2 separate regions of the Homo sapiens genome follow, and region 2 is linked to region 1. Evidence: fine-mapped expression QTL. A gene starts in region 1. The other region holds a variant in brackets. All regions are shown on one strand. Distances are from middle to middle.

Region 1 (15,996 bases):
TCTCTGTACTGAACTTGCATCTTTTCTGTCAATGTGAGATTGTTTTAAAAAAAGCAGCAGCAACCTTACTGGTAATTCTATTACAATAAATTTTTCTGTTATTGAATGAAGATACATTTCTTTGTATATCATCTTGGAAAATCTTGCATTGGAACACACACTGAAAGAGATCTGGGGATTGACCACAGTTTCTTCTTGGAGGAATTTAAATTAACTTCAGCAAACAACTTTTTATCACCCCTAACAAAACCCACATTAGGGTAAAACTTTTGCTCCAGGGAAAGTCTTTGACCATACCAGTAATAAGGAAAAGGTGACTAATTTTATCATCCATTCAAACAACACGTCTAACAGCAAAAGTTTAGACACTGTTTGAATTAAGATTTATTAAAATATAAAGCAGTTGTGTGTAGAGACAGATCAGGGCTTCCATACTGCATTTCTCTGCTGGCCTTGCCTCACTTACCATTCCAAGTGACTTTCAGAATTTCCCACTGAATTGTGTGACCAAGCTGGTAAATGACATGAAATGAAGTAGGTAGTTTCAGGACAACTCCAAGAAAAACAACTAGGCTATTAATAGTGGTTTATGGTATCTCCATACTGTTATGGGACCTATCGTTTACATATTCTGGTTGTGCCAGGTCTATTAAAGAAATCTGAGAACGCTGAAGACATTAAGATAGTCCTTTTTAACAAGTAAGAATTTAAAGGAGAATTTCTTGTAATTACTTCAACATAGCCTATTTTCTATGTATTTGCAATTCTATAACCTAAAGGCCAAAACCAATCATTCCATGTCTAAGTGGTAAAGAAGATAAACACCTTGGAACAGATTTTTCTTTCCAGTTAGTAGATGTATAGCAAGTTGGCACGATGACTTTATTTTATTTATTTGTTTTGGTGGGGGTTGGGGAAAACCCTTCCTTCTCCATACCTTCTGAAACTGTTTCCGGGCCTACAGTTCCAGCACTTGCATTGGTCAGAAGAGGGTGTCAGACAGTGTGGGGCACTGACACAGCAATGGGAGCTGAAACAGAGGTCCCTGGAGGACTGACTCATTTTAGAGATTTTTCTTCATGAGGATATTGGCTAAGATTTTGAACCAACTAAGATCCTAGGGGTTCATGGGCTTATCACTAAAGGGAGAATGCCCAAGGAGAAAAATATTATTATTATAGTAATAATAATAAATAATAATTATAATTAATTTTAATACTAAAATGAAATGTAGCTTTATATCATAACCAAGTTATTAAAGATGAACATATCAGTTACATTAAGATAAAAACAATCAGGTAATCACATGCATATATCTCTTTGCCTTAAGTGTTTAATCTCAGATACATATATATATTCACACACACAGTGTTTCTGCTGTATCTTTCATACAAACGGTAAATCATGATCAATTAGTTATTTCAGATAGGGTGATAGGACTCTGGGAAGTACCAATGAAAAACTAAAAAACAAAAAAAAAAACTAAATACATAGCCAAATGAGTACAGATTTGCTAAGGAGTGTTGACTAAAGTCTGAGTAGATCCTTATTCCCATTAATAAGATATATATATTTTAACATTTGACTATTTCAAATATGTGTGTGTAGGGTATACAGAATGTTTGTCCTAAAATAACCAGATAATTTGCAATATAAACTTACTGTAAATTAAAGAATCATTAATTTTAAGCTATAATTCCTGAAGAGACAGACATTCTTGTGATTAATGAATTTTGAAAGCTTGAAGTGAACATTTTCTGGAGTTAGCATACCCTGGAGGCAATTTCTATCTCTGCTGCTTAATCTTTCTTATTTCCTTGTCTATAATCTGTTTCCTTAACTAGGTCATAACAACTTATTAATCATTATAAAATATTTATTATCCTTTAAGTACTCTTGACCATCATTGTTTTAATCTGATATGTAGAATGACATGAACATAGTTTGTCACATTCAGTATTTGTATAAACATTGAAGGTACTACCGAGAGGAGAAAACCACTAAAATCATGATCAATTTTAACAAAAATAATTTTTTAAAATTTTAAATGAAGCAAAAAACCTAGATTTAAAGATTAAATTTTATATTGGGTTTGGGAAATTTCATCCTACAGAAACAAAATGAGAGTACTGTGGTACTTTTCATGATCTTTCACTTTTATGCCTAGATTTCCTCATCTGGAAAGTATGAATTCTACTAGTTGCCCAGATTTTCTTCTTACGAAGATTTAAGAGGAACAAATTCAAATTCCTAAGAAAAAAGTTGCTATATGATTTTAAAGTTGTTATTTTTCATCAATAATTGTTGCATCTGAACTGGCAAATGACAAAATAAAAATATAATTTTGAATATATAAAATTTACATGACATATAAATTTACATTATATGTATGGAGTCTTTGTCCTAGACACTTTATGGAAGTTTACCATAGAAAGAATCAGAATTTTCTCATGGAAAAAAACAGTAGTTGTGTGCCATATATATTTAAAGCATGCATATTTGATTATTTTCTTCAATTCTTCTGATATTTTCATTTAAAAATTAAACTTACAATTTTTTTTTTCAAGAACAGAGTCTCATCCCTCTGTCACCCAGGCTGCAGTGCAGCTGCACAATCACAGCTTGCTGCAGCCTTGACCTCCTGAGCTTATGCAATTCTCCCACCTCACCCTCTGCAGTAGCTGGGACTATAGGCACGCACCACTGCGCCGGGCTAATTTTTTTTTTTTTAATATTTTGTAGAGATGGGAATCTTCCTATGTTGCCCAGGTTGGTCTTGAACTCCTGGGCCCAAGTGATCCTCCCGCCTCAGCCTCCCAAAGTGTTGGGGCTACAGGCATGAGCCACAAGCCAAAATTTAGATTTTCTGAAAGACTTAACCAAACAGGTACATTCAAATTTTTTGAACCTGAAAAGGTAGTTTCAATTATTCCCTCACTTATTTGTGAAGAAATCATTAATATCTATGTAAAGTGCTACAAGAATCAGGGGTGAAAAGGACAACGAAGCTCCAAAGGCAGAAGAACTATTGAGAAAACAGTTTGAGCCTTTTTTCCAGTCTAGGTACAGATTATGGGGTAGAGATGGAGAGTCTGCTTTTGAGCTGCCTTACCTTATACCCTTCCCCATTAAAGCTTAACAGAAAGCACTAGAACTTATAATTATTAAGATTGAAATGAGAATCATGCTTAGTTTCAAAAATTTAAGTCTATAGTCACCGGGTGCTCTCACTTAAAATAGTTTAGTTATTTCATCATTTTTTACTTCTGGGAGAAATTCTTGGCACATAGTGAACAGGAATGAAAACATGAGACAGCAAAAAGTCTCAGCACAGTGCAATCTGAAAGGTTCAGAGGCATCCTTTATGTAATAAGTAATGGAGTCACTGGAAAACTGCCTTTAAAAACAGAAGTCTCTTGCCAAAAGTGAAGACTAACCATAGCATTTGAGGAATAAAGCAGCATGAGGCAAACACCAGGAAATGTTCAAGGCAAGTTTCTTATGTAAAGACCCATAATGAAATATTTAATAAAGTCTCATTTAAACAAATTATGCTAGATAAAAATTTGCATTGTATTTCTTAGTCAAGGTGGAGTGGGGTTGAGGGAGTAAGCAGGAGAGGGAATTACTACCTGGCTAAAAGCAGCTCTAAAATTGTATCACAGGTGTGTGATACAAAGAGAAGTGTAGAGAACAAAGAGAACAATTTCTTTTCCTTTATGCCCAGTTGAGTTTCTCTGCCCCAAGTGGTTTGTAGAAGACCCTTCTTGCATACTGCCAACAAAATTTTCACATCCACTAGATATTCCATGATTTATAAGTATTATAAATAAAAAGCAAAAGGGGTCATTTCTAGTTACACAAAAAGGGGAGAAGAGTTTTTGGGCTGAAATTCTCCAATGGCCTTTAGCAGAAAAATGAAGCCTTTTTAAAAATACTTGGCACAAAAGTTTTTATTCAAGTAAGTGTTAGGTTAAGGGGAGTTAAAAAGAGGGTTTTTCTAACAACACTTTTTACAACCAAGAGACATCTAAGGTTAAAGTGGGCTTCCAGATAGTGAGGAGGCATCTGTGGCCAGCTCTTCCTAAAGAAGCTCCTTAAATCAGGGTGTGGCAGACAGAGTTGGTGGATCTTGTAACCACCAAGAGAATTAGACCATCTCTGGAAGGACCAATGATTAATAATCAGATGGCCTTTCTTCGTTAGAAAAAAATGAGTATCTCAACAAAGAAAATGCCCATTAAAATGTCTTACTCTGCAAATTCTGCAACTGCATGAAAGGAAAAAAATCTGCTTCGGTTCTATAAATTGAATATCATGAAGTAAGCCAAGTTAAGTAATAGTTGCCTACCTAGAACCTACAAATTTTGTTTGCATTAGAATTTGAATACTGAAACTAATTTTTTCCTACCTCAACAAATCTTCAAATGTTGACCAACTGGGTCTTTATATCATATTTTTTCATAGATACCTTATGAAAAGTGATTGCATCTCAATTCTTATAAGAGGATCACAAATAAGATTCTTCAAGAAAACAAGTGTGGAGAGTAGGATCAAAAAAACATTTTTTAACTAAGTAACAGCTTTGGAAATACTTTCTCTTTTCCCCCTACCCCTGTTGAAAAGCAGTAACCTTTCTTTAACTTAAGGATATAATGTTAGGGAATAATGTTAAAATACTGGCATATTTTTATTTTTTTAAATTTTACTTTAAATTCCAGGATACATGTGCAGAATGTGCAAAGGTATACATGTATACGTGTTCCAAGGTGGTTTGCTGTACTTATTGACCTGTCCTCTAAGTTCCCTCCCCTTGTACCCCACCCTCCAACAGGCCTTGGTGTGTGTTGTTCCCCTCCCTGTGTCCATGTGTTCTCATTGTTCAACTTCTACTTATGAGTGAGAACATGGGGCATTTGGTTTTCTGTCCCTGTGTTAGTTTGCTGAGGATGATGGCTTCCAGTTTCATCCATATCCCTGCAAAGGACATGATCTTATTCTTTTTTATGGCTGCATAGTATTCCATGGCGTGCATGTGCCACATTTTCTTTATGCAGTCTATCACTGATGGGCATTTGGGTTGGTTCCATGACTTTGCTATTGTAAACAGTGCTGCAGTAAACATACGTGTGTGTGTGTGTCTTTATAGCAGAATGATTCATATTCCTTTGGGTATATACCCAGTAATGGGGTTGCTGGGTCAAATAGTATTTCTGGTTCTAGATCCTTAAGGAATTGCCATATTGTCTTCCACAATGGTTGAACTAATTTACATTCCCACCAACAGTGTAAAAGTGTTCCTATTTCTCCACAGCCTCGCCAGCATCTACTGTTTCTTGACTTTTTAATAATTACCATTTTGACTGCCATGAAATGATATCTCATTGAGGTTTTGATTTGCATTTCTCTGATGATCAGCGATGTTGAGCTTTTTTTCATATGTCTGTTAGCTATGTAAATGTCTTCTTTTGAAAAATGTCTGTTTATATCCTTTGCCCACTTTTTGATGGGGTTGTTTCTTTCCTTGTAAATTTGTTTAAGTTCCTTGTAAATTCTGGATATTAGACCTTTGTCTGATGGGTAGACTGCAAAAATTTTCTCCCATTCTGTAGGTTGACTGTTTACTTTGGTGATAGTTTCTTTTGCTGTGCAGAAGCTCTTTATTTCCATTTGTCAATTTTGGCGTTTGTCGCAATTGCTTTTGGTGTTTTCACCATGAAGTCCTCACTCATCCCTATGTCCTGAATGATATTGCCTAGGTTTTCTTCTAGGGTTTTTATGGTTTGGGGTTTTACATTTAAGTCTTTAATCCACCTTGAGTTAAAAATACTGGCATATTGTATAATTGTACTCACTATTTAAGAAGGGCCAAATCTCTTATCAAGGATCTTTGAGTGAGGAAGTGCATGTTAGTGTTCTAAAGATTGAAAGATTGAAACCCGTGGTACCAGTCTGCAAGATGACCCCAATAATTGCTGACTCCTAGTCACACCCTAGTGTAGTCTCCTCCCACATCAAACAGGGCTGCCTTGTGTAACCTACAGGATATTGTGGGAATAACAGTGTATGACTTCCAAGGCTATATCATAACACACATTGTGGCTTCCACCTTGTGCTCTCTTGGATGCTTTCTCTAGAGCAAGCTTGTCCAACCCATGGCCTGTGGACTGTACACAGCCCAGGACAGTTATGAATGCAGCCCAATGCAAATTCGTAAACTTTCTTAAAATATTATGAGATTTTGTGATTTTTTTTTTTTTTTTAGCTCATCAGCCATCATTAATGTTAGTGTATTTCCTGTGTGGCCCAAGACAATTCTTCTTCCAATGTGCCCCAGGGAAGCCAAAAGATTGGACACCCCTGCTCTAGAGGAAGCCAACCGACAAGTCATGGTGACACTTAAGCAACTCTATGGAAAGGTACTCATGACAAGGAACTGAGGCCTCCTTACCATTCATGTGAATGGGCTGTCTTGGAAATGGATCTTCTTGACCCAGTCAAGCCTTTAGATGGCTGTGACCCCTGTCAACATCTTGACAGCAATCACATGAGGCTTTGAGGTAAACTGCTCCCAGATTTCCGATCTGCCAAAAATGCTGAGATTATGCATGTTTATTGTTGTAAATCATTAAGTTTAGGATAATTTGTTTCTACAGCAATAGTTTACAAAGTCTTTTTCCCCCTAAGAAATACTAACAGTGATACAAATGAACATGGCCATCTTAAGGCAAGTTGATGGGCTCTGTGGAGTTACTGGTACTTAGATGGAAACTTATCTCAATAAATTTGCAATTTAGTTTCTTGTTTCTCAAAGTCTTGTACCAAGACCAGCAGCATTGGCATTACCCAGGGGCTCATCAGAAATGCAGAATCTCAAACTCCACCCCAGAGCTACAGAATAGCAATCTGCATTTTAACGAGATTCCCCTATGACATGTAAATATATTAAAGTTTGAGAAGAAGCACTGATTTATTTGATTCCTGGTGTTACAGCCTGTGGTTGGAAACTCTGGATATACCTTAGGGGTACTTTTAAAAAAATACTGTTGGAGAAGCCCGTCTCCAGAAATTCTGATTTAACTGATCTAGGTTGAGGCCTTTTAAGGTGGTGGACCTAATGATGCTGCAGGATTTTCCTCTAGAAAAACTACATTGAAGCCTCAGATCAGCTCTGACTTCCTAGCATGCCCCAACCCCGCAGGAAGTTAGGTATGCCCAGGTGTATGCCCAGAACTGCCTTAGGAGTAGTATTGTGCACCGAGCAGGAGACCTTTCTGGAGCTGCCATGAAGGGTGTGTATGCGTGTGTGTGCGTGTGTTTGGTGGGGCGCACCAACTTCACAGATGCTAGACCGTTGCATGTGCTTCTACCTTCTTTTATTCATGCTCTTCCAGGACTCAGTTCAACCCGAAAAAAAGCAACTATGCCTTTCTTCCTGAAAGGTCAGTTTGGATTGCTGTCTAGGGCTGCTCAGAAAACCAGGTGTTGAATGTTCTAAGGTTTCACGTGCCAAATTGGGATCAAACATATTTGAGCTTTATTTTTCCTAATAACAAAATGCAAGTAACTAGTATTTCTCTTAAGTCTTGGAAAAGATGTTTTTATTGTTGAATAGACACTACGGCATTAAGATTTCCACTATGATGGGTGCTCACAAATGATAGGCCTCTTAGGTAAGAAGCTTTAATTGACAACATTAAATATGCGGGGCGGGGGGAGTGGGTGCAGAGTCTCTCTTTCCTTTGTTAGGGCATCCCAGTGACAGAAACAATGCCTGACACATGGTACGCTCTCGATAAATATTCGTTGATTACATAACCCCCTCTACCACCCAATAACTTCTCATCATTCATTCAAAGTTACTGAACGTACCATATTAGCGAATCTGCAATGGAAACAGTGGAGGCTGTTTTCTCAAAGGATTTTCTAATAAAGCAACAAATCTTTTTTAAAAAAAATGAATGGTGTGCCCCAAGTCAATGCTGGGCTTCGGATTTCTGCGGTAGTTTGGCCTGGGGTCCTCACTGGGATGCTGGCTGGGGATGTGCTCCCTGCCCTTGAATCTCCTTCCTTTGTAGTTTTTGGCCTGCGCGGTTACGTTTCCCAGGCGGAGGAGCGCGCGTCGCGGCTGCGCCCATTAACGCGCGGCGCCGGGCAGGAGCCGTCAGGCGGGCGGGGCTGCCCGGGACCCGCAGGAGCTGCTCCTCCCGCGCCGGCGCTCGGCCCCCTCCTCCGCCCCCTCCTCCGCCCCCTCCTCCCCTTCTCCGCGGTTTGGCATCCCCGGGGCCGGGAAGCCTCCTCCAGCGCTGACAGCCTGTCGGCGGCGGAGGGAGGCCAGAGCGCGGATGCTTGCCAGTGGGCCGGGCCTGACCGCTGCGTGGGAGGCGGGCTGCATTATTTCCCGCTAGGGCCGCGCTCCAGGGAAGGAAGGGGCCAGACACGGCCCTCTCAGCCCCGAACGGCGCGCGCTGCCCGGCGGGCGGGATCCGGGCGCGGCCGAGGCGGCGGCGCTGCACCCCGGGCCTGGGCCCGCGCGACTCCCCCGGGGGCCTCTCCCACGCTCCGCGCCCCGCCCCACCCTTCCTTCCTTCCTCCCCTCGGCGCTCCCGGGAGCGCTCGGCAGACGCCCGAGCTTTGTGGGCGCCCGCGGGCCCAGCGCGAGCCTCGGGCGGCCCAACTTTGCCTCTCCCGGTCGGCTCCCGAGCGGGACTTGTGAGGCGTGGCCGGGTGGAGGAGGCGCTTGCGGGGGCGTGGGGCTCCCCGGCAGGCGGGAGGCACGGAGCAAGTCGCACTGGACAATGACCTGGGCAGCTCGGCGCTGCGGACACTTTTAGCTGAGGGCGCGGGCGGGTCGGCTCCTCCGCGGCTCCTCGGCCCCACCTGCGCGGAGAGGGCGGGATGCCAGAGCCAGGTGTCCCGGCGCGTTAAGGGCCCTCGCAGTCAGACGTCCCTGCACCGGCGCTCGCACCCTTAGTCGGCCCGGAACGTCTTTTTGCGGACGCCCTCGGAGCAGCCGCGATGGCCAGCACCAGGAGTATCGAGCTGGAGCACTTTGAGGAACGGGACAAAAGGCCGCGGCCGGGGTCGCGGAGAGGGGCCCCCAGCTCCTCCGGGGGCAGCAGCAGCTCGGGCCCCAAGGGGAACGGGCTCATCCCCAGTCCGGCGCACAGTGCCCACTGCAGCTTCTACCGCACGCGGACCCTGCAGGCCCTCAGCTCGGAGAAGAAGGCCAAGAAGGCGCGCTTCTACCGGAACGGGGACCGCTACTTCAAGGGCCTGGTGTTTGCCATCTCCAGCGACCGCTTCCGGTCCTTCGATGCGCTCCTCATAGAGCTCACCCGCTCCCTGTCGGACAACGTGAACCTGCCCCAGGGTGTCCGCACTATCTACACCATCGACGGCAGCCGGAAGGTCACCAGCCTGGACGAGCTGCTGGAAGGTAGGAGGGGAGGGCGCCGCACGGCAGGTGCGGCGGAGCGCCGGCAGGTGCAGTGGGCGTGAGCCGGCGCAGCGGGGAGCCCGCGGGGTGCTTTCCAAGCCGCACGGGAATTGATGCTTCTGTCTGCTTCTCTAGAGATTGGCTGGGGGTGGGGGCCGGTGGGGTGCCCACATACACACTGACTTTCCTTCCCAAGAGGTTTGTCTCTTAAAGAAGGAAAAAATTTCCTGATGGTCAGGCCAATTTAGGCACTGGTGGCATCTCCTAAGATTGTTGAACTTATTTGTATTGAAGTGCAAACTGTTTGAGAAAATGGTTCTCCCATGGGGAGCTGGGTAATCCCCTACTAATAAGCTCTGTTGGACCCTCGGTGTGGACCCTGGTGCAGGCTCCTGTCATGTTCCAGTATTCGGGGTCCTGTTGTGACTGCTGTCAGAAGCTGTGGTTGTGAAATGCTCTAGGTTGGCTTTCCTAGTTTGCCTTGCAGCAGAAGTTACTTGAGGTGAAGAGGGATGATCCTAGACAGCAGGTCTCAACCTTGGCTTCATCTTGGATCACACTGGGGACTTCGAAAAATATGGGACCCTGATCCCCCAACCCCCAGATATCCTGATTAAATTGGTTGGGTTTGGGGTGTGGGTTAGGCGTCTGGAGTCTCAAAAGCCCCCCCCCCAGGTGATTCTAATGTGGGACCCTGGTTAACAATCACCGTGCTAAAGGGTTTTCCACATTTGGTTGGAAAAAAGGTAAATCAAGGTCAATCTCTCCAGCCTTATCCTCTAATAAGAGTACCTAATTAGAATGATAGAGGCCATTGGATTCAGCAGTGGGGACTTATTAAAAATTAGTAATTCTGCTGTGTCAACCATGCCTCGGTCAAAGAGACTGCTTGGCTGGATGTTGGGTCATCCTTGAATTCCTGCAATACGTATGCCTCATCCTTTTCAGGTAGAAAAGGCATTATCAGTGGTTAAGAACCTGTTTCCAGTTCTAAATAACATCCAGAAAGACCAGGCAGAACCCAGGTATGTGCTGACTGCGTGTTTACATACAGTCCGCTCTTGTGCATCTTTCTTAATGCAAATGGCACATTCCATGTAGTCATAGCAATAGCTTGGCAGGGAGAGGAAGCTGAACATCAAGCCAGATGTTTTTCTTATATTATCTCAGCATGCTTTTCTGTCCTGAAGGCATTATCCCCATTTTATAGATGAGGAAACTTAGGCAGCATGCCTTGCCTCACAGTGCCTGCAGCATATACTTTCTCGTCTACGATTCACCTCTGCTGAGCTAATGGAGCCACATGGAGGAAAACTAAAGGTCGTTGAGTTTGTCTATTTAGTCAGAAGTTTTTGCTGCCCTGCCTAGAACGCGACCCAGCCAAAATTAAATTGTCTCTTCAGTCTACATATGTATGTGCTTGTGACTTCACCCATTCTGTCAGTTGTGTGTTTTGGTTTTAAGGGCTTCTTGAGGAGGTAAGGGGATAGCTGGAGGAGTATAAGTAAAAAAGGAAGATACAATGTTCAAAGGGCCTTGTTGCTTTTCTTAATCATGTTAAACACTTAAAAGCAATATTTGCCTAGCTATTTTAAAACAGAGTAACCAGTTGTTTGACTGACCCAAGATCAGATTTGCAGGATCAAGGCAATGCCTGTTTGCTTAAGCACTTGTTACTCAACATGCCATTGGGATACTACTGTTCCTGGTATGGTTTCTTAAGAGTCAACAATGTTAATATCCTTCTCTAAAGAAATTTTAACAGTGGATTTACTACATAAAATTGACATAACGTAAACATGAATCTCATAGGAGAGATGATAAGATGGACATTATGCATGTCCATTAATAGGAGTACTTAGTATAGATTGCGTCTTTTACCGCCCACCGCATGCATGTCCACTGGGTCTACTTCTGCAACTGTAGTTTCAACTACAAATTGACTTAACAAATTTCCTTCAAATCATTCACTGATTTTTAGTGGATGGGGATTTGGAAAAAACATTATCTATGGAGTCCAAATCATACCAAAATATGATAAATAATATAACAAATAGTTGCACAGCCAAAATTTTTTTTATGACTTTGCCCACTTCTTTGAAGAAGTTTTTAATACAATAAAATTACTGCAAAAGAAGAAAACTTGGACACTTTTTTTGTCATATGGAACTCTCTCTGACAATGGGTCTTTGTTTAATTCTTCAGTTTTCCCCCAAATTAGTAGAATACTCCATAGCAATGCAATTTTTTTTTTAAAGAAAATATAGGTACAATAGTTCACGTCTGTAATCTCAGCACTTTGGGAGACTGAGGTGGGTGGATCACCTGAGGTCAGGAGTTCGAGACCAGCCTGACAAACAAGGTGAAACCCCATCTCTACTTAAAAAAAAAAAAAAAAAATTAGCCGGGTGTGGCGGCAGGCGCCTGCAGTCCCAGCTACTCAGGAGGCTGAGACAGGAGAATTGCTTGAACCCAGGAGGCGGAGGTTGCAGTGAGCCAAGATCACACCACTGCACTCCAGCCTGGGCGATGGAGCAAGACTCTGTCTCAAAAAAAAAAAAAAAAAGAAAAGAAAAAAAGAAAAAGAATCACGAATGCTTACTGTCAATCATTCCAGAATGTAAGTAGTTTCAACTTTTAATTAAAATTGTGTGCTCAGATTTTTCATGTAGGAGAACTAAGCAGCTATCTGTGAAGTTATTTGCATTAGTAAAAATAAGTCTGTAATATATTCACCACATTGTCAAAATTGACTGCTTTATTTCGTTTTGGTTGATTATTTTTAATAAAGCTCTCTCAGGTAGTATTTTACAACATTATGTTCAACTAGGCTCTACTTCTTCGATCCCATGAAACTTGTAGTTTAAGAGGTATGTTTTTTTCTGAAATGTCTTGAGTGAAGAATAGAAAGTGATGACTCAAAACAGTAGGATATGAACATTCATTCAGAGCCCCAATCTCATTGAACTCAGATGACAAAAGAAATTTGCATGGCCCAAATTATTTTTTCTTCTGCCCTTGACCTTGAGAGTCTCTGGAGACTAAAAGCTGTTCTAGTGTGAGCTGGCACTCCTCCAGCACTACACTAAACCAGCAAGCACCTTCAATTTATTGATTTATCCATCCTTGCTGGATTAAGTTTGAGTTGATGCTGTGCAGTCCTGTAATCCTGTTTATTCTTTAAAACTAGTTGGGGGACCTCTTCCGGCAGGACTGTGGCTCTTAATCAATATTGGAAAAATTAGTTGAGCTGTCTTAAGCTGTGAGCCTGCTGAGCTCAGTATCTGTAATAACCAACAGAGAATGTCCAGATGACTTGTTCTTTAGCTTTCTTATTAGGGACTGATTCAGAATTCCTAGTCTTAGTTCTGTTCCGTGTGTCTTCTCTCCTTCTGAGCGTTTGGTCTTCTCTCCTTCTGAGCATTTTGAAATATTTATAAAGTTTTGATGACCTAAAGAGATATAACCAAGGACAGTAGAAAAAGTGCCTGACCAAGTCAGGATTCCTGAGTTCTACTGACTAGATTTGAGAAAAATTTCACCTCACTTCCCTGGCCTTGGCATCCTTTTCTCTAGGATGAGAAGTTGGCAGACCACCTAAGTTAGGTCTCTTCTGGTTTAAAAATGTGTATGTACCCGTTAATTATCTGAGGGGTTATTGTTGGAGCATATGATGGCTTGGGCTGCCATTCCCTAGCCAGAACCCATCTTCCAGAAAATCGATGAGGCTGCACATGTCCAGATAACAATCACAGAATGGGGTGTATATCTCTGATGAAGTGCTTGCCAAGAGTCAAAGGCATTAAGAGCTACCTGTGTCTGCCTCTCTCATTCCAAAATAAAATGTCATTTTGTTATTTCTACCTTTTATCCCTTCATAAACAATAAGCTGATTGTTTTTTGGCATATGAGAGAGTTTTGGTTATTTTGATAATGATACTTTCATTCCCTCATGAAGTTAACAGGGACATGTAAGAAAAATAAGATTGTAAAGAAATCAAGCCCATGAAGTTTGAGGTCCTCCTACCAAACCTATCTACCGCATCTGTTTGGTTAGGTCAGTTCTTTGAAAGTGTTAAATAAACCAAAATACGTTTCTGAGAATTTTTAAGTAAAAATGAATTTCCATAAGAACCTAGATTATACTTAGTTGTTTTTTCCTGAAAAATAAATTTTATAATAATAGAAACTGTGGAACTTATTATGGTAAGAAGGAAATAAACTCATGAGTTACAAGGTATTTGCACATAGGAGTCGAAAATGATGCACACTAAAGTCATGCATGGTGATTGGACTTGGAAAGTTAATATTGAATTTCAGGGCTGCAAAACGTTCTTTACCTGTGAAACCCCTGGATTCTTCAAGGCCCACTTCAAATAGCACCTATGAAGTCTCTTCCCACTTCTCTGGGCAGTTGGTCTCAAATGGTTAGTTGAGGGCATACTATGTCCTAGACATGGTCAAATGCCTATGGTCTCTTCCTTCAAAAAATGCACATTCTCCTGGGAGAGAGACAGTAAACATACAAACAAGATGGCTTCAGCTAAAGTGCTGTAAATGAAGTGGTGATGACATGGGGCAGGATGGCCATATTGGCCGGGGTGATGTGGAGGGCTTCCTAGAGGAACAGACATTGGAGCCGAGGCCTGAGGTCAAGTTTATAACTTTCCTCTGCTTACAGCATTTTTCTTTACTTCTATTATAACACTTAGCTTTGTAGTCTCATGATATATTGGATCTGTTTTTGCACTCAACTGAGAGAAGCCTGAGGTCAGGGATCTTAAATACAGTAAATTCATTGATTAAATAACTCAGACAATGATTTTACCTCTAAGTCCCTTAGTTGTCTAGGGAAGTTTTGTATGAGTTAAGCTTTAATGGGATTCCTAGATATTTGTGAAAATATATGTTTTTGGAAAATTGGATTACATGTTAGATAAACGTATAATTTTGGGTGAAATTCTGTGCTAACCATTTTGGAGGGAATGACTCTTCCATAATATCCCCTTCTATAAATCTGGTTGTCCCATCTCATTTCCTTAAAAACAAGGAAAATAAGATGTGCTATAATACAGCTGCATAAGAAGCTCTTTCCCGAGGTAAGAGGAAAATTTTCATTTAAAGAATAAATCCTAAAAGGTTGGGGAAGGAAAGGGGATATGTGAGAGAGCATTTATGAGATTAGAGTATGACACAGTGATACTCTGGAAGTTATAAGACAAGATTAATATCTAATGGGTTTTTAAACTATGGAAAAGGATATTTTTATGGTCCTGTAATATGAAATAAAGGAAACCAGATTCTCTTGGGCAGTGATCATCTAACTGCTTTCTTCATTGCTCGTGAGGCCGAGAGGAGTTGCTGCGGGGTGTGTACCGCCTGGCTAGGTCTTTTTTCTGTATCCCTTCCTGCCCATGCTACCACTGCATCTGTGTTTTTATGTCTTCTACTCGTAAAGTAAACCATTACCGTAAGGATTAGAGATGCTTTTCTTCTCTGCATTGCTACCATTTACTAGATGTTTTATGAGCAGTCATTGTGTGAGGTACTTTACATATTTCATCTAACCCTTGTAATACCTTCTGAAATATGGCTGCATTGTCATCCCCATTTTACAGATGGGGAAGCTGAGGCTCAGAGATGGTAGAGAAATTGCTGCATTGTACCAATGTAAGAGGTAGAGCTGGCACTTGAGCCCTTTCTCCCTGGCTTCTGAAACTCTGTGTTCTTAACTACTACATTCTACTACTACATTCTACCACCTGAGAGGAAATGGAGTCCATTCTGTTTGTGGGGTCTTTGGGAGGTGTCTTGGTTCATTTTCTCTTGCTATAACAGAATACCACAGACTAGGTAAGTTATAAAGAAAATTTATTTTATTTTCTAGTTCTAGAAGCTAGAAAGTCCAAGGCACGGCACTGGCATCTGTTGAGGGTCATCCCATGGTGGAAGGGTGGAAGGTGAAAGCAAACGTAGGATATATAGAGAGGAAATGGGGCTAAATTCCCTCCTTTTATAACTAACCCACTCCCACAATAACAGCTTTAATCCATTCTTGAGGGTGGTGCCCTCATGATCTAATCACCTCTTCAAGGCCTCACTTGTTAATATTGTTACAATGGCAATTAAATTTCCAACACCTGAAGCTTGGGAGATGTGTTCAACCCACAGCAGGAGGTGAATAAATCATAAAGGCAGAGACTTCATAGGCTGGATTAGTGCCCAAAGAGGCCCCAGAGAGCTTGTTTTGCCCCTTCTAGCATGTGAGGATGCAGTGAGAAGTCACCATGAGTGAACCAAGAGCCCTCACTACACACCATATCTGTTAGCACCTTGATCTTTGATGTCCTCACCTCCAGAACTGTGAGAAATTGATTTCTGTTTATAAGTCACTCTGTTTTTTGTATTTTGTTATAGCGACTTGAACGGACTAATACAGTCTTCTTTCGCCTCTAAAGTTCAGTGATCTTGGGAAATGCTTCTAGGGGTGGGAAAGAGAAATGATTTTGGCTCTATCTGGCTCCATGTCTTTCTTTGAAAGTTGGCTGGGTACTTGA
Region 2 (15,996 bases), 180 kb after region 1:
GGGCTGTGGAGGTGAGGTTATATGGGAGGTTGGGGACGTCTTCCCCAGTGGTGTTTCCACATTTCCATGACATCATTCATGAGAAGTCAGGTCAGCCTGTATTCATCAGGCACTAACTGTGTAAGTGCACCTCCGAGGGTGGGTCAGTCAGGCGCAGGTTGGAGGGATGCCCCTGTGAGCTGCTGACATGGGTTTGCCTCAGCCTGTGCCATTCTGCTTGGCATCTTGGGTTGGCCCTTCCTCTCAGACTGAGCTTAAATGAAAGTCAGTTTCCAAGAGTGAACTAATTATTTCATGAATGTTTATCCAGATCCTGAACTCCTTATGACTTTTTCATATGTTGGCTGTTCCACTGATCTTTGGCTGTTAAAGTGCAAAGAAGAAGGGAAAGGAGATCGGACTTAGATTTTCTGCCTTTCCTTTCTTGTTGCCATGACAGCTTGAGGGCAGATACTGATTTTTTTCCCCCCAAAATGAGGATTTCCATTATTTGTGGATTCAAATATTTTCTTGAGTGTGTGTGTGTGGTAAATATACATAAGAAAATTGATCATTCTCACCATTTTTAAGCGTACAGTTCAGTACCACTAAATGCATTCACATTGTGTGCAAGAATCACCACCGTCCCTTTCCAGAACTTTTCCATCTTCCCAAACCGAAACTCTGCATTCATTAAGCAAATGTTTGAGTCATTGTCTCTGTCTCTTTAATTCCTCGGCCTATGGAAATGTTCTTTGGCTCATTATCTAAAAGGAGAAGTTCTGTCATTACAAATGGAATTGAGATACATAATTGAGATACGGAATGCCCAAGTCAAAGCCAGAGACTGGACTCCTTTCCCCGCTCTTCCTGTGGACATTTTGTTGAAAAATTCTACGGTGACTTTGACTTTTCTTCCATTTCTTTGTCACTGGCTTAGTGAGAACAATCTCCAGGAAGATCTCTTCGACCAGATCTTGGCTGGGAAGCTGGAGTTTCCGGCCCCCTACTGGGATAACATCACGGACTCTGCCAAGGTACCCTCCAGGCCTGTTTCTGTGGGTTGTATTACGTTGTGGGGTCCTCACCCATTGCACAGGGCTGTAGCTGCGCTAGGTATTGCATTCCAGAAAGCTCCTTGGCTTTTAATGTGTGGTTCTTCTTTTAAGTTTATCCCATGGTATGGTCTCTGAAGTTCTTGGCCAAATTCTTAAAGCTGGACTGGCCATCTTTCCAGTTTCCCTCCATCCTCTTGTGCTCCTCTAAGTTCTCAACATCCATTATTTCATTTACTCAAGAAATATGTATTGGGCACCCATCAGGATACAGGGATGAACTTGTGAAACACACTGAATTGCCAAAAGGAAAAATACTGCAGTTTTAGACTGTGGAATAATAACAATGACCAGAACTCTTAGGTGAAAACATCTTAGTTTCACATGGACTCAGGAGAGACTGTCTTTTCTTTTGCACTGCTTATAAGGCATTAGGAGAGTAGGTATAATCACGTTTAGGTTTGAATCAGTTAGCAGCTGTGCTGGCTCTTCTCTGAAGTGCTTGCCACAAACTCAGATTTCTGTATTTATGCTGGAATTACCTCCTTTCTCCTCCTCTGTGGTCTGACTTGTTTGTTTATTTGTAGGAATTAATCAGTCAAATGCTTCAGGTAAATGTTGAAGCTCGGTGTACCGCGGGACAAATCCTGAGTCACCCCTGGGTGTCAGTAAGTACCCACATTCCCAGGGAATGGGCCTCACTGTGCTCTGTGGCCAACAGCACGGTTCCTCACTGTGATGTTTGCACATGCAAAAGTTATGCATCCAAGCTCCATGGTAGATGTCTGTCTGTCCCATTGAGCAAGTAGCATAAAGATGGCTCCCCAAGAAAGCAGTTGGCACTAGGGTCCCAGTCTTAGACCCTGCCCCGCGAGTCACCTGGGCAAGTCACTGTCCCTTTCTTGGCCCCAGTTTCCTTATCTGCAAAATGGAATTGGCCACAGTGCTCCTTCAGGAGGCTTTTAGCTCTCGTCTTCTGCGGTTTGGGGTTTGAGAGTTTCCAGGGTTTGCCCTGGAGATGAGCCTGTTTCAGACCCTGACCTTTGTGCCTTCAGGGAACGTGCTCTCAGGAGACCTCTTGCTGTTGATGGGGAGGCTGAGACAGGATCGCTTCAGAGCTGAGTGGAGACACATGATATTGACTAGAGTTCCCTCCCAGAGGCTCAGGTGGTCTCTGGGAGGGAAACATGATCCAATAAATGGGGACTGTGGGAATTACATTTCTCCCATTTCCGTCATTTCTGGGAGGCTCCAGGAGAGTGAAGTTAGTTTAATTAGCCCAGGGCTTTGTTGACTCCGGTTGGGAAGCTCCCTGTGTACCTCCAATGCCCCACCCACCCACCATCCAGGTGCAGTTTCTCTGGACCCTGCTTGCTGCTCTCTTGGGCTAAATGACGTGGTTCTTGGACCAAGTAGCTAAGATACCACATTTTTTTTTATTATAAGCAATAAAGACTAACAACTAAATGAATTCTTGATTAAAGTGAAAAACAATGATCTTTGATGCTTCCATGGGAGGGATCATACTAAATCGTGTGCCTTGGGTGAGGGTCTCAGTAGCCTAAAGTGTGTCCTGCTTTGTGTCCCGGGAGACCTGTGCCCTCTCCTGGGCCTACTCTAGTCCTGAGGGGCAGAGGGAATGGTGTGGGGTCTTTCTGAGGGCATGGGCCTACTGAATAACAATAGTTATTTTTGAAAGATCATTGTTTCCCTAATTCTGTGGCTAAGAGGGGCCCATTTAGGAAGAGGTCAGGAGGGTGGTTGAGGCGGGGAGGGGGACTCTTAAGGAAAAGACAACTCAAACGGGAGGATGGAAAAAGCATTGTATTTGATTGTTTTCTTTCCTGTAGGATGATGCCTCCCAGGAGAATAACATGCAAGCTGAGGTGACAGGTAAACTAAAACAGCACTTTAATAATGCGCTCCCCAAACAGAACAGCACTACCACCGGGGTCTCCGTCATCATGGTGAGTGGAAGGCGGCAGGTCTGGCCTGACTGCGGAGCCGGCCTTGAAGTTTTTGAATTAGGTAGCCGGGAGCTGCCCTCACATGGAAGTTGGTGCCTTCCGTAGTCCTATTTCATATGAAGATTGGCTTGGCATGTGGAGGGCACTCATTCGGCAACTCCCAGGCTTTGGGCACTGTGTGGAGGGGCTTGTGTAGGGACCAGCAGGCCTGGTGTGAGGGGTCCAGGCGTCAAGGAGCTCCTGGCTGGGCCCTCTGGGCAGCTGCTTCCACTCTTGTCTCTGCCTTCTCATCTAGAGAGACTCCCAAGCCCTGGAGGGGTGTGTTGTGTTAGGAATTAACTCCCTGCCTACCCCAAGGCCTCAGAAATAGATTATTAGAGATGTGAATTATTCTTTGAGACTTGGGATAAGAAACAGCCAAAGCTAAACATATTTCAGTTTTAAAAAATCAGTGTTTTATAAAACACAGTTTGGGGCTTTTAAAGGTACATAATCAAGGAAAAAAATATATATTCATTTTTCAGGGTTGGTAACATTTTATGAGATGTCAGTGACAACGATGGCCTTATTTTTTTCAGCCTTTTCTTCTTCCAAAATGTTTCTTAAGGCAACTCTCCTAAATACATAAACACAACAAATTAAAATGAAAAGTGACATGAGAGTAAATGAATCAAAAGGAAAAAACATTGAACCAGAGGTGAGGGCAGCACACCCGCAGCAGCTGTCCAGGCCTGAGCCAATGCAACCCTGGGCGGGAAGGCCAGCTCACCGTGAGCAGGTAGAAGCCAGCCAGCCACCCAGGCAGGGACCTTGGTTCTCCCCACACACTCCCAGGAGCAGGGAACAGGGGTGGAGTGGCCTTTCCCAGAGCTGGAGTTGGCTGCAGCAGCTTTCGAATCAGACCTGCCAAGGTGATGGGCGTCTGAGTTTCACATCTGGGCCCCCCGTGACCCCACTGAGTCCTGACAGCTAAGGATGGGCCACCTCCACAGCTCCGTCACTCGTACTTGGGACAGGCCTCTCATCCTCTGGGAAGGTCCTCCTTGTTTCCTACCCAACTAGAAGGGAAACAGTGGCATATTCTCATGGTACATGGTTGTCTGAGAGCCTTACCTAGGAAGACGCAGGGTCTAGATAGAAGCTATAAGGAAGCCACACACATAACCCACATCCCCACACCCCCAACATCCCCCACACTCCCCACACCCCCCACACCCCCCACATCCCCACACACCACAAATCCTCCACACCCCCACACCACACATCCCTCACACCCCCCACACCACACATCCCCCACACCACACATCCCTCACACCCCCCACACCACACATCCCCCACACCACACATCCCTCACACCCCCCACACCACACATCCCCCACACCACACATCCCTCACACCCCCCAACACCCCCACACACCCCCCACACCACACATCCCCCACACCACACATATCCCCCACACCCCCCACACATCCCCCACACCCCCCACATCCCCCACACCCCCCAAATCCCCCACACCACCCACATCCCCCACACCCCACACATCCCCCACACCCCCACACATCCCCCACACCCCACACATCCCCCACACCCCCCACACCACACATTCCCTCACACCCCCCACACCACACACCCCCACATACCCCCACACACTCCCATCCCCCACACCACACATCCCGCACACCCTCCACACCACACATCCCCACACACCTCACACCCCCCACACCCCCACACAACCCACATCCCCCGCACCACACATCCCCTACACCCCCCACTCTACACACCCCACACCCCAACACACCCCACATAACCCCCACATACCCCACACCCACACCCCCCACACCCCCCACACCCCCACCCCCCACATACACACCCACACACCCCACACCCCCACATAGCCCACACAGCCTACACACCCCACACCCGAACACACCCCACATACCTCCACACACCCCACACCCCCCGCCCCCACGAGCGTGCAGCACTCTGTTATATGCATTGAGCATACACCAGGTACCCCCACACACCCCCAACACCCCCACACACCCCACACCCGAACACACCCCACATTCCCCACACACCCCACACACCCCACGAGCATGCAGCACTCTGTTATATGGATTGAGCGTCCACCAGGTTCTCAGCACCCACTGGGCCGTCATTCTCTTCTGTCCCCCGGCTGCGTTTATGTGGCCACCCTCTGTGTGTCCTTGCAACTCCCCAGCTGCTCCCCTGCCAGAAAGTGTGCTCTCCCTCTCTCCCTCTCTCCCTCTCCAGACAGAGCCTGGGTTTGCAAGCTGAGTCTTTTGATGGCTTGCAGGACTTTGGGGGCGCTCTGTGCCAAAGCAGTGAGAAGGCCTTTTGAGTTGTGGTTTCCCTTGAATTTTAGCAGTGTTTTGCTGAAAGCCTGAGAAAGTCAGAGTTGTCAAAGAATTACAGCTTAGACACTTTGAAAAGAACCATCTTGATTGAGCCAACAGCATGAGAATGTTTCCAGCGATTCCCTTGCGAGAGCTAGCATTGATGGATGGGCTCAGTGGTACACAGTCTTGCTGTGCACTGCGTTGTAAGGCAGCTTCTTGGAAAATTTAGAAAAATAAAACATTAAAAATTGGCATACTCAACGTGTCATGAAAAAACCTTAAGAAGAGAGATTGGTTAGGATCAAAATTTAATAACCATGTTAAGTCTTCTGAGAGGAAGAACCTTTAACCGCCCTGTGCCCAGGGCTTAGGAGAGTTTGCTCGGAGACTGTGAAGGGAGTCATTGCTGGGGTCACTTTTTGACTCAGGGGCCCAGATAGGAATCAGTGGCCATAGGCCTGTGCCCGGCCTCTTTATGGCTGGCTCTCAGCTGACATTCTGGAATGATTAGCTGTTCTACAGGCTCTGTCCTAGATAATGACGCTTAGACCCCCTCAGACAGAACCTATGTCGTGTGGTTTACAAATACCATTTTCCATTTGCTGATGAGGAGTTCAGGACTCAAAAGACAAACCCCTGGGCTCTGACAGGGTGTTTGTGTGAACAAACAACCCGTTATTGTTTGCAGCTCTGATGGTGATTGTAAATGTTGTATGTTTATGTGTGTTCAGTTGTCATTTTGCGCATGTTGGCAGGGTGTCCCCTCTAACCCCATGTTACCTACACAACTCTGCAGGCTGTTAGCTCAGAGGAACTGCTGATGTCATGATCCCATTCAGTACCTACAGGGAAATTCAATCAGTCTTGCCTCTGGTGGCACCCATTCTCGATGGCCAAAACACCAGCCTGTGACTTTTGGGCTGTCCCAAAAAGTGGGAGGGGAAGGCCTGCTGCTGATCCTCCCCTGGCGCAGGACCTGGTCTGGGGCATGGTTGTGTGGGGGAACTTGCGATGCTGCTGTATTGTCCTCCTCGTCCTCCTCATCCTCCTCGTCCTCCTCATCCTCCTCATCCTCCTCATCCTCCTCACGTCACTGTGTGTCCTGTCTTCGGAACAGTTTTAAGTGTTTTTACATTAAAAATAACCTCAAAATGACTCTCCCTGGTACTCATAGGTCCTCATAACTGAGACTGTGGGGCCAACCTGGTTTTCTGCAGATACAAATGATAGTGGAAATAGTGTCAACCGTCTGGAGGTTGAATCATCAGATAACTTACAGACAGGACCTTCCCATCTGCTGTCACCCTAGTGTTCTCATCCCCAGAGCTGGGGCCTGAGACTTCAGTGAGAAAATGATGGGCTAGAAATTGGTCCATAAAGGTGAAAAAAAAGTAAAGTTGATGGTGTTATCTGCATTTTGTTTGACAGTTTGATTTGACAGTTTGAGAGGCACCTCAGAGTTTCCTTCTTTACCCCGCTGAGACAGTGGGAGAGCCTGAAGCAGAATCCTGGTATTCACCACGCTGCGTCCGACCAGCGCGCCCCATCCTCAGCCCCTCTCACGCCTGCATGCTTGTCTCAGTTTCTGATGCCGCCGTCCGGCTCTCAGCTGCTTACTGGTGTGGGTCTTTTGTACCTACTCACATCCTTTCCAGCCAGCCAAGCAGGCCCCTGGAAAACTTTATTTTCAAACTTCTCAGCTTACCACACTGCCTGCCTTTCCAGACCAACAGCTGGTGAGAGCACGGGAGGAGTCCCATAGTTCTCCTACCGATGCTGTTTCCCACTTAGGTGAAAAGTGGCTTTTCGGAAAGAGCAGCTTAAGATGGTGCCTTCGTGAAGGCTTTTGTTCTTTCTCCAGCTGCATTTCCAAAGATGAGTTTGTATCAGTAAGTGTAATCTCAGCCAGCCTTTGGGATAAGAGAAGATAATTTAATGGGTGAGGCCTTGGTTTCAGGCAGGGCTGAGGTGTGGGATTACAGTTCCCATTTTCTTGGACTTGTCCTTAGCATGCGTAAGAAAGGACAGAGCAGGGTGCATGCAGGACGGCCTCCCATGTACCCCGGGGGGCTCGCCCCAGTTGCAGAGACCAGGAGAGACCATCTTGTGGTGGGAAGGGAATGCCGAGAAGCCGCCGTCACTCGGCGCCTGCGGTGCAGACTTGAGAAGGGACGGATTCAAGGGCATTGCCTTCTTCGCTGGGGGATTATGCCTTGTTTCAGGGGGAAGTTGGGGAAGGATTTGGGTTTATTGCCTTAATTTAAGATAGACAAAACTGTTTCACTCGTGTTGCTTCTGTTGAAAGTAAGTCTAGTTTCTGTCCCTGCTTCTCTCCTGCCTTCTGCCTCTCCCGCCGCCTGCATTGCTTCCCTCTGGCTAGGTCCAAGGCCATGGTATGTACTAACCGCACTGCCAGCCTGCCTTCTGCCACACACGCCCCTGTGCTTCTGACAGGAAGAGAAAAGGAGAAATAACGGGGGGATTGTTTTCTTGTACCCAGGAGACATTTTGTGGTAGGAAAAACCTGTATGCTGGCTCTCTGCTTCCCATGTAGGTGGGAGCATCTTTTAGTGGAGTTTTCCACAGTTACCCTTTCTCCAGGTAGTTGAAATTGTCCTTGGAAATTGTAGGGATTTGGGGAGTTTTGTTTATTGAGACAGGATCTTGCTCTGTTGCCCAGACTGGAGTGCGGTGGTGTGATCCTAGCTCACTGTATCCTCAAACTCCTGAGCTCAAGCCATCCTCCTGCCTCAGCCTCCAAGTAGCTAGGACTACAGGTGCACGCCACCTTGCCCGGCTAATTTTTAAATTCTTTGTGGAGATGGAGTCTCTGTGTTGCCCAGGCTGGTCTCAAACTCCTGACCTCAAGTGATCCTCCCTCCTTGGCCTCCGGAAGTGCTGGGATTACAGGTGTGAGCCACTGCACCCGGCCAGAAATGGATGACTGTTCAGCTTGAACTTGTGAGGGCCTGTGGAGAAGCAGCCATTCCATAGGTGGCCCCAGGTGCCCTGAAGGCCGCCACCCAAGTTCATCTTAGAAAGCCCTGTTGTTGATTCTTATTTTCTCCAGACTTTTTTTGTTGTTGTTAAAGTACTGAAAGAATCTTTAGTGCATTTTCCCCTCTCCCTCCCCAGGGTAGTTAGATTACAAAAGGCCTCCTGGCAATTGTCCCTTTCAGCTAAAGGTGCCTGGGAACTGCCATCTCCTTCACTTTTGGGAAGCCCATTGAGATGGCAGCTTGATGGGCTTCCCTGGACAAGCAGGAAATAGAGAAGGAGAAAGCAGGACCGGGGTCCCTTCCCCAGCCAGGCTTAGAACGCAAGGTGACTGCCTCACATCTTTGTGGCTGTTTCTCTGTTCCTTGAAGAGCTGAGCAGATTTAAAAACTTTCAGGATGTTTCAGGATAAGGAAGCTTTGCTTCATGTGAAGAGAAGACAGGTGAGGATATCATGGAGGATCTGAAAAAAGAGTAATGTGGCTCCATCCAATTCCTGGGCCTTTTATAGGCTTCACAGCATCTCAGGTTGTTAGGAGGATTAATTATTCACAGGACATGCGGGTAACTTTTCAATCTGTGACAGAGAGCTTTATTTGGAAGAGTAAACTCTCCAAGACTGAGCACCCTTGTAAGGTTTGCTTATTGTCTCAGAATTCTTTTGAGCTTAAGGTCTGGGCTTGGGCTGAAGGGGTGAGAACCCAGGCACAGCCCAAAGCGAGAGAAGACGACAGACATCCAGTGTGTCCTGGGCTGCCAGCCTGGGTCAGGGTAGGAGCAGAGGCCAAGGACAGCCCCTTCCCCCGGTGGGTTCCCGAAACCATTACTCTCCTGTGAGGCTTCTGTTAGAAGCTTGGCGTTATTTCTCCTCTTCTGTTTCTGAGGCCCGTGCATGCTCTGTTGTGCTCTCTGCTCGTGGCAGCTGGGACCCGAGCCTGGGCCCGGGTAATGTGTTGTCTCTGCTGTTTCCTCCTCAGAACACGGCTCTAGATAAGGAGGGGCAGATTTTCTGCAGCAAGCACTGTCAAGACAGCGGCAGGCCTGGGATGGAGCCCATCTCTCCAGTTCCTCCCTCAGTGGAGGAGATCCCTGTGCCTGGGGAAGCAGTCCCGGCCCCCACCCCTCCGGAATCTCCCACCCCCCACCCTCCTCCCGCTGCCCCGGGTGGTGAGCGGGCAGGAACCTGGCGCCGCCACCGAGACTGAGCCTCCTGCAGACGGGCGAAGCCGCCTG[C/G]TGCAGCCCAGGAAGCCAGCCCTCTGCTCGGCCTCGCCGGCCTCCCTGCTGCAGGCCTCCCTCTCTTCACCGCCTGCGCCTGAGTTCGCGGGTCCTCCGCAGGCCGCCTGGGAACCGGAGCCTGGCGTGCCGGAGCCTGGCCTGGTGCTCTGGGCTCTGCCTTCTGGTTCCTGGAGGCATCAAAGGCTGCATCCGTTCTGCCAACAGCTGTTCGGAGAGACTCGTTCCAGATCATCCCGTCATTTTCAGTTTGTTGGACATTTTACAGCTTCACCAGGAGAATGTGCAACTTTATTCCAGCATTCGATGCATTTTTATAGAAACACTTTGGAAACACTTTGGATGAACCAAGGCCTTTTCCTTATTTAAGTAGACTCAGAACACTCCCTTTCTTTTCTTTTCTCTCTCTCTCTCTCTTTTTTTTTTACGAAAGACTTAGAATTGCATTTGTCCTTTTGTGGGTGTCCTGTGAGAGGTGATATGGGGGCTAAGAGGACTGGCTTTCTAATAGAAGAAGTGAGCGCCTGAGAGGACAATTTGGTCATTGGACACGGATTGCAGGCTTTGAGAAGCGCTCAGAGGCCCAGGGCGGCGGGCTCAGCCATTCGGCTTGGGGCACCAGGCTCCCCAGAGACAATGCTCAGTATTCATTCATACACAGACGATGGAAGAAGCCACTTCTTCCCTGGGCGGTGTGGGTTTCCCCCAGCTCTTCCCACACGTGTGTTAGGAAATGCCCGTGAACTTGCCCTCTGGGCTTTTTAATGAGAGGCTTGGCGCATGCGGCACCCAGCGGCTGCTTCCCTGCAAGCCAGCGACTTGCCGAGCAGAATGAGCTCTGCTCCTGAGCCCCGGTAGCTGCTTCCTCATCTGCATTTCATCTGGAGCAGGGCAGGTAACCACAGGAGGAGGCATGCCCGAGGCAGCCAGGACTGGGCGGGAAGGTGCTCCCTGGATATACTCTGTGAACCTTCTGGAAGGCTGCTGGCAGTTTTTCCTTTTTGTCCACCACCCTGCTCTTTTTAATAATTGTACATAATCCGTGTATTTGTTTTACCTGCTCATCTTCTAAACTGGCGAGCCCTATAGTTCGTTCTCATTGTTAGATTTTGCCTTTTACAAGTGTCCCCAACCTGCAATAAACTTTTCCCTCTTGAAAAAAAGTAATCAGGGATGGGCAAAGGTTTCTGTGCTGTTGTTTGGCTAAGGATGTATGGGAGCAAAGTTCTCCTCCTCGGCCCGGGTTCCAGCGGGTGCCAGTGGCTGTTTTGCAAAGTCTCAGGGCCACCCGGGGAAAAGAGGAAGCTCGGGGAGAACACACATGGAAATGAATCTTGGTTGAAGTTTGTCTGGTTACAGGTGCAGAATGGGCGTGGTGGCTCAGGCCTGTAATCCCAGCAGTTTGGGAGGCCAAGGTGGGTGGATCACCTGAGGTCAGGAGTTCCAAGACCAGCCTGGCCAACATGACAAAACCCCATCTCTACTAAAAATAGAAAAACTAGCCGGGCGTGGTGGCGCATGCCCATAATCCCAGCTACTTAGGAGGCTGAGGAGGGACAATCACTTGAACCAGGGAGGTAGAGGCTGCAGTGAGCTGAGATCGTGCCACTGCACTCTAGCCTGGGTGACAGAGTGAGAACCTGCCTCAAAAAAAAAGACACATCACAAAAGCTCAAGAACAAATGGTGTGCTTGGTGTGCGACAGAGGAACCTTATGAAGCAGCAGCAGGAAGGGCAGAGAGTTGGGGCAGTTGTTCCCCTGTCTCTCTCTGAGGTTGTGTGGTCTCCTGTCTCTGCTTTTTCCAGTGCCTTGTCAGCTACAGCTTTCTCTGCAAGACTCTTGTTTCTGTCCCCTCATAGTACCCACTTACCTGTGGTTCAGGTTACCCTGGTACTGCCTCTGTCCGCAACTTTTCAAGGCTTTATAATCCCAGGGCTTGAAACCATCTAACTTGACTCTGGATCTTCCAGTTCAGATTGCTGAAGGAATGAGTCAATCTCAAGGGCCAGGCGATACAATGAGTTCTGGGCTGGTGCTGACCCCTGATCAGGTCCAGAGGTTGGCCACAAGGTGCGGTGGGTTGCGGGCTGGGGGAGCGGGCGGCGGGCTTCCTAGGCCCACAGCTGTAGCAGGGTCAGGCTACAGGAGGACGACAGTTTCAAAAAAGCAGTGATGTATAGGTCTAGAACATTCTGCTTGTGCCTCCTCTTTGGTTACAGGACAAGCTTTTTCATAGCTTTCAATAGAAATATTTTTGTTAATGGAAGGGAAGAGCTAATAAAAGGAAGAAGGAGAAAAATGCAAACAGCGATAGAACAAGGCCTCTGGCACTGATCTGAGCCCCAAACCCATTTCCCTCCCTTGAACTGTGAGGTTCAAAGAAAGACATCTGCTAAAGGCAAAATAAGTGGCTGGCCAGTGCCAGTCACTGTCAGGATGCAGGAGCCTCTTCTTGTCGGTACATGCCTCCGCCCTCTGTAAGGATGGAGACCGGAAGTAGCATGAGCTGGCAGGGGCGGCACTGCCTAGCCATCCTGCTAAAATGGTTATGACCCCAGGAAAACCTACAGAAGTATGTGGCGCTAGGGGAGCAAACCAAGAGGTCAAGTCACACCTCCAGGGTAATAGAATTGGCAGGAGGTGGAGCCATGATGCAGTGTTAGCTTTTGCTGACTCTAAAGTGCATGTTCTTTTTGGGGGCGGGGCGGGGGTGACCCTGTCTATCCATGGCTAAATCAAGGCCTGGAGGGGAGGAGCTAAATAAAGGTTCTGATACAGGCAGATTGTTCATCTGCCCACTTGTTTAGCAAACATTTATTAAGCTGTAATTCTGTCTCAGGATCTAAATTAAATACAGGTACTTAAAACTGCTGGGTTCCTCAAATCCTGCACAGAGAGAATGGCATGAACTGTTTCATGTTGATTCCCTTACTTGAGCCGGGCCGAGTCTCAGCCTCTCATTTTCTCTCTCTTCCTCTCACCCTCTCTTTTCAGAAAGGTTGCTATGATAGAAATGTATTGAATATATAAATTGAAGGCATTTGGCAAAACTTCCCCCAGAATATCTTCATGGCTAAAATGGTGAAATGTGAATTAGGAGATGGTGAAGACAGCTCAGGACAGATTCACCATGTTGAAAGCAGGAGTGCTGATTGATGTTGTCTTGGAGAAAGATCTCTAGAACAGTTTGCTGTCCCACAGAAATATGCAAGCCACAGGAGACAGCATTTCCTAGTATCATGTTAAAAAAATTTTTTAGAGAAACAGGTGAAATTAATTTTTATAGTATATTTTATTTAACCTAATATGTCTAAATACATCCAAAGTATTATTTTGGCATGTAATCAACATAAATCACTAGGATGTTTTACTTTCTTTGTTCTAAACCTTTGAAATCTGGTGTGCTTTACATTTATAGCATGTCTCAGTTTGGACAGGGCACATTTCCAGTGTTGAACAGCCACGTGGTTAGTGGCTGCCATGCTGCAGCTTCAGTCTTTGTTCTTAACCTTTTTTTTTTTTTCCCGCATATGATGTGAATAACAACTTAGAATGCTTTCCTGTTTTTTTTTTTTTAATGGAATGGACTCATTTAAAAGGATCTCAGCAGGTGAGGATACTGATCCAAACCCACGGTGTAGAAGTGAAGTGTGAAGTGCTGTGATTCAATTCTGTAACTACCCAAGGCAAGGCCCTGGCCTGCAGCACGGCTGAAGATCTGGGCCTGGAGGATTTCAATGACCGCCCAGTCGTTAGGAGCCAACACAGCTGCTTGAACATTAGCATAATCTTAACTGTGTTATGAGAAGCACGCGCAGATCCCAGGCAGTGCTAGCTGGGGATGGAGTTCTGTTCTGGGGACCTTGTTACATGTGGTGCAGAGCAAGAGCAATGATCACCCGACAGAGGACAGCTGGAGTGGTGAGGGGGTGTGAATCCTGGCAGCCAAGGACTGGTGGAGAAAACTGTGAGGTAAGAGGAAAGTCGAGGCACATTTGCTCAATGTCTTTGGCTGTGTAAAGGACTGCTCCATAGAAGGGGCACAGCCTTTTTTTAGTTGCTCTGGATGGTCAGCCTGAGGTCAGCAGGTAGGGGGCACAAAAGGTCAGATTTAAGGACAGAGTGAGAGTAAGATTCTAGTAACAGAGCAGTGCAGTCACAGAATCAGCTGCTTTCTAAAGAAGAAGATCATGACAATCACACAAGTTTGCAGCTTATGGAGTATTTCATCCTATCTCATTTGAGATATGCCACAGCCCTAAGAGATAGATATTAATATCCTTGTCTAATAAATAAGGAAATGGAATGGTCAAGAGCTTCCCCAGGCAGGGCAGGTGCCCCATGACAAGGTTTCCTCTTTTGGCAGTCAGAGATGTGTTAGGAGTGCTGCGTGTGTAAGACACAGGTGGGGTGCGAATTCATAGGAACATTCACAGTTTGGCTTTTAACCTTGCTGGAGGAGCCCACTCTCTCAAAAGAGATGGCTTGCCTGGCCAGGCACGTGGCTCACGCCTGTAATCCCAGCAAGGCGGAGACAAGGCGGATCACCCGAGGAAGGCAGTTCAAGACCAGCCTGACCAACATGGAGAAACCCCGTCTCTACTAAAAATATAAAATTAGCTGGGTGTGGTGGCGCATGCCTGTAATCCTAGCTACTCAGGAGGCTGAGGCAGGAGAATCGCTTGAAACCGGGAGACGGAGGTTGCGGTGAGCCAAGATTGCACCATTGCACTCCAGCCTGGGCAACAAGAGCAAAACTCTGTCTCAAAAAAAAAAAAAAAAAAAGTTGCTTGCCTAAAGGCCAAACCACCCTTCATTTTCTACCACTTTGTCAGTGGCTGAGAAGTTATCAGAGCAGGGGCACTTATTTAGATCAAAGTCAGAGAGTGGTTTTTCCAGAGGGAGGCTGACATGTGCAACTTTGGTGAGTCTTGGCCAGGGGGTTCTAAGGGGCAATCTTATGATAAAAAACAAAGCCTTGAACTCAAAGACAGCTGTGGGAAGGCCTTGCCAGCATTGAATGGCTGAGGGGAAGAAAAGCATATATTTGATACAGAGACAGTCATTGGCCCCTACCATGCCCCTTCAATTTGGGCAGAGCTGGGCACCACAGGCCTCCAGCACCATCAGGCGGGCTGAGTCTGTTGCATTGCGAGGAGTGGTTGGATGCCTGTCTGTGTTGAGGCTGAAGTTAGTTCCGGGGATGTCTTTCAAATTATCCAAGGCCAAAGCTGCAAAGCAGCCAGCTTCCTGCCAGGTATGAGGAAGGGACAAGCCTGCCCAACTCCCTGGAATCTTGGTTTTGGCAAGGAAAAATATTCCTGAATTTGAGACAGAAAAATAGTTCACTTCATGTTTCTGGCATAGATCACCAAGATCTCATAGGAGCATTCACAGTTTGTCTTCTAACCTTGCTGGAGGAGCCCAGCTCTCTCAAAACAAATTGCTTGCCTAAAGGCCAAACCACCCTTCATTTCATGAGAGAAAAATGTGATGTGCCTTGCTCTGAGCAGTCTGCGGTTCTGGTTCATAGCAGCCAGGGCTGGGAGTGATGTGTCAGTGGTGTTAACAGTAGTCTTGGGTCTTTAGCGATCTTATGACTATAGAGCATGCAAGAAGTTCATCATGGACTCAACTTTTCAAGTCTATCTAAAAGAAAAATCCAAAAGATTTTTCTCCCACTCACCTGAGAGGAAGTAGAACTTTAAAATGGTTTGTTTGGCTATTTATGTATTTGCTACTTTATGGTCTTGCCCTTCCTTCTTACAAGTAGGAAATTTTGAAACTTCCCAGCCTCCTTCCCCTGCAAGGATAACTTGTGAAGCCTATAGAATTAACAGTGGTTCAACTTTATGCTACACAAAACGGGGGTAAGCTGGGCTGGGTGTTCTTCTGCTTGAAGTAGGAAACGATTTCCTTCCATGTGGTAGGGCAAAAATAGCCAAGTGGAGGCACTAGCACATTTGCTCATGTATAGGTTATGCAGATTTTGAGACTAAAGTTACATCCTGCTTCTGTTTGTGAACATACTTTGGCCTAATGTGATTTCATGTGGGGCTATGGGGCTAATCCATAGTGAACACACACCAGGAACTGGTGAAGTTTCTCCACCTAGCTCAGTGGTGGCTTATTCCAGCTTTTAAATGAAAGACACTTCTGCATCTGGATCCAGGAGGAATCTGTTTATATCATGGGTCAGCTGCCTTTTTTAGCAGGGATGGAGAATGGGGCAGGACTGTCACATTAGAAAGGACTAAACCAGGCCTTTTATTTGCATGGCTGGAAGCTCTTGAGATCACAGCCAGTAACAAGATACCAAAGAAACCTACTGAAAATCTCTACCTCAACCACCTTTCATGGTGAATCTAAGCTGCTGCAAGCTGTTGTATTTGCTAAGAAGGGT

Alleles and levels. Alleles are on the strand shown, and positions count from the first base shown. SD is a standard deviation of normalised expression in the study named.
With allele C in place of G in region 2, the expression in prefrontal cortex of the gene that starts at base 8,436 in region 1 is lower (small effect, 0.19 SD a copy in CommonMind).

Evidence for each region. PIP is the estimated chance that this variant, and not a neighbour inherited with it, causes the effect.
Region 2: its variant is fine-mapped to the expression of DCLK2 in prefrontal cortex (CommonMind, PIP 0.95).

Annotation. Positions count from the first base shown.
Region 1 is chr4:150,070,010-150,086,005 of GRCh38, forward strand. It overlaps DCLK2 (doublecortin like kinase 2), which reads left to right and starts at 8,436. Exons shown (of 16, transcript NM_001040260.4): 1 at 8,436-9,439. The coding sequence starts at 9,019.
Region 2 is chr4:150,246,684-150,262,679 of GRCh38, forward strand. It overlaps DCLK2 (doublecortin like kinase 2), which reads left to right. Exons shown (of 16, transcript NM_001040260.4): 13 at 920-1,016; 14 at 1,622-1,702; 15 at 2,885-3,001; 16 at 9,337-10,755. The coding sequence ends at 9,564. Among named protein-coding and RNA genes, the nearest start is that of DCLK2, 180 kb to the left of the region's middle. The variant C/G (reference allele first, on the strand shown) is at 9,593.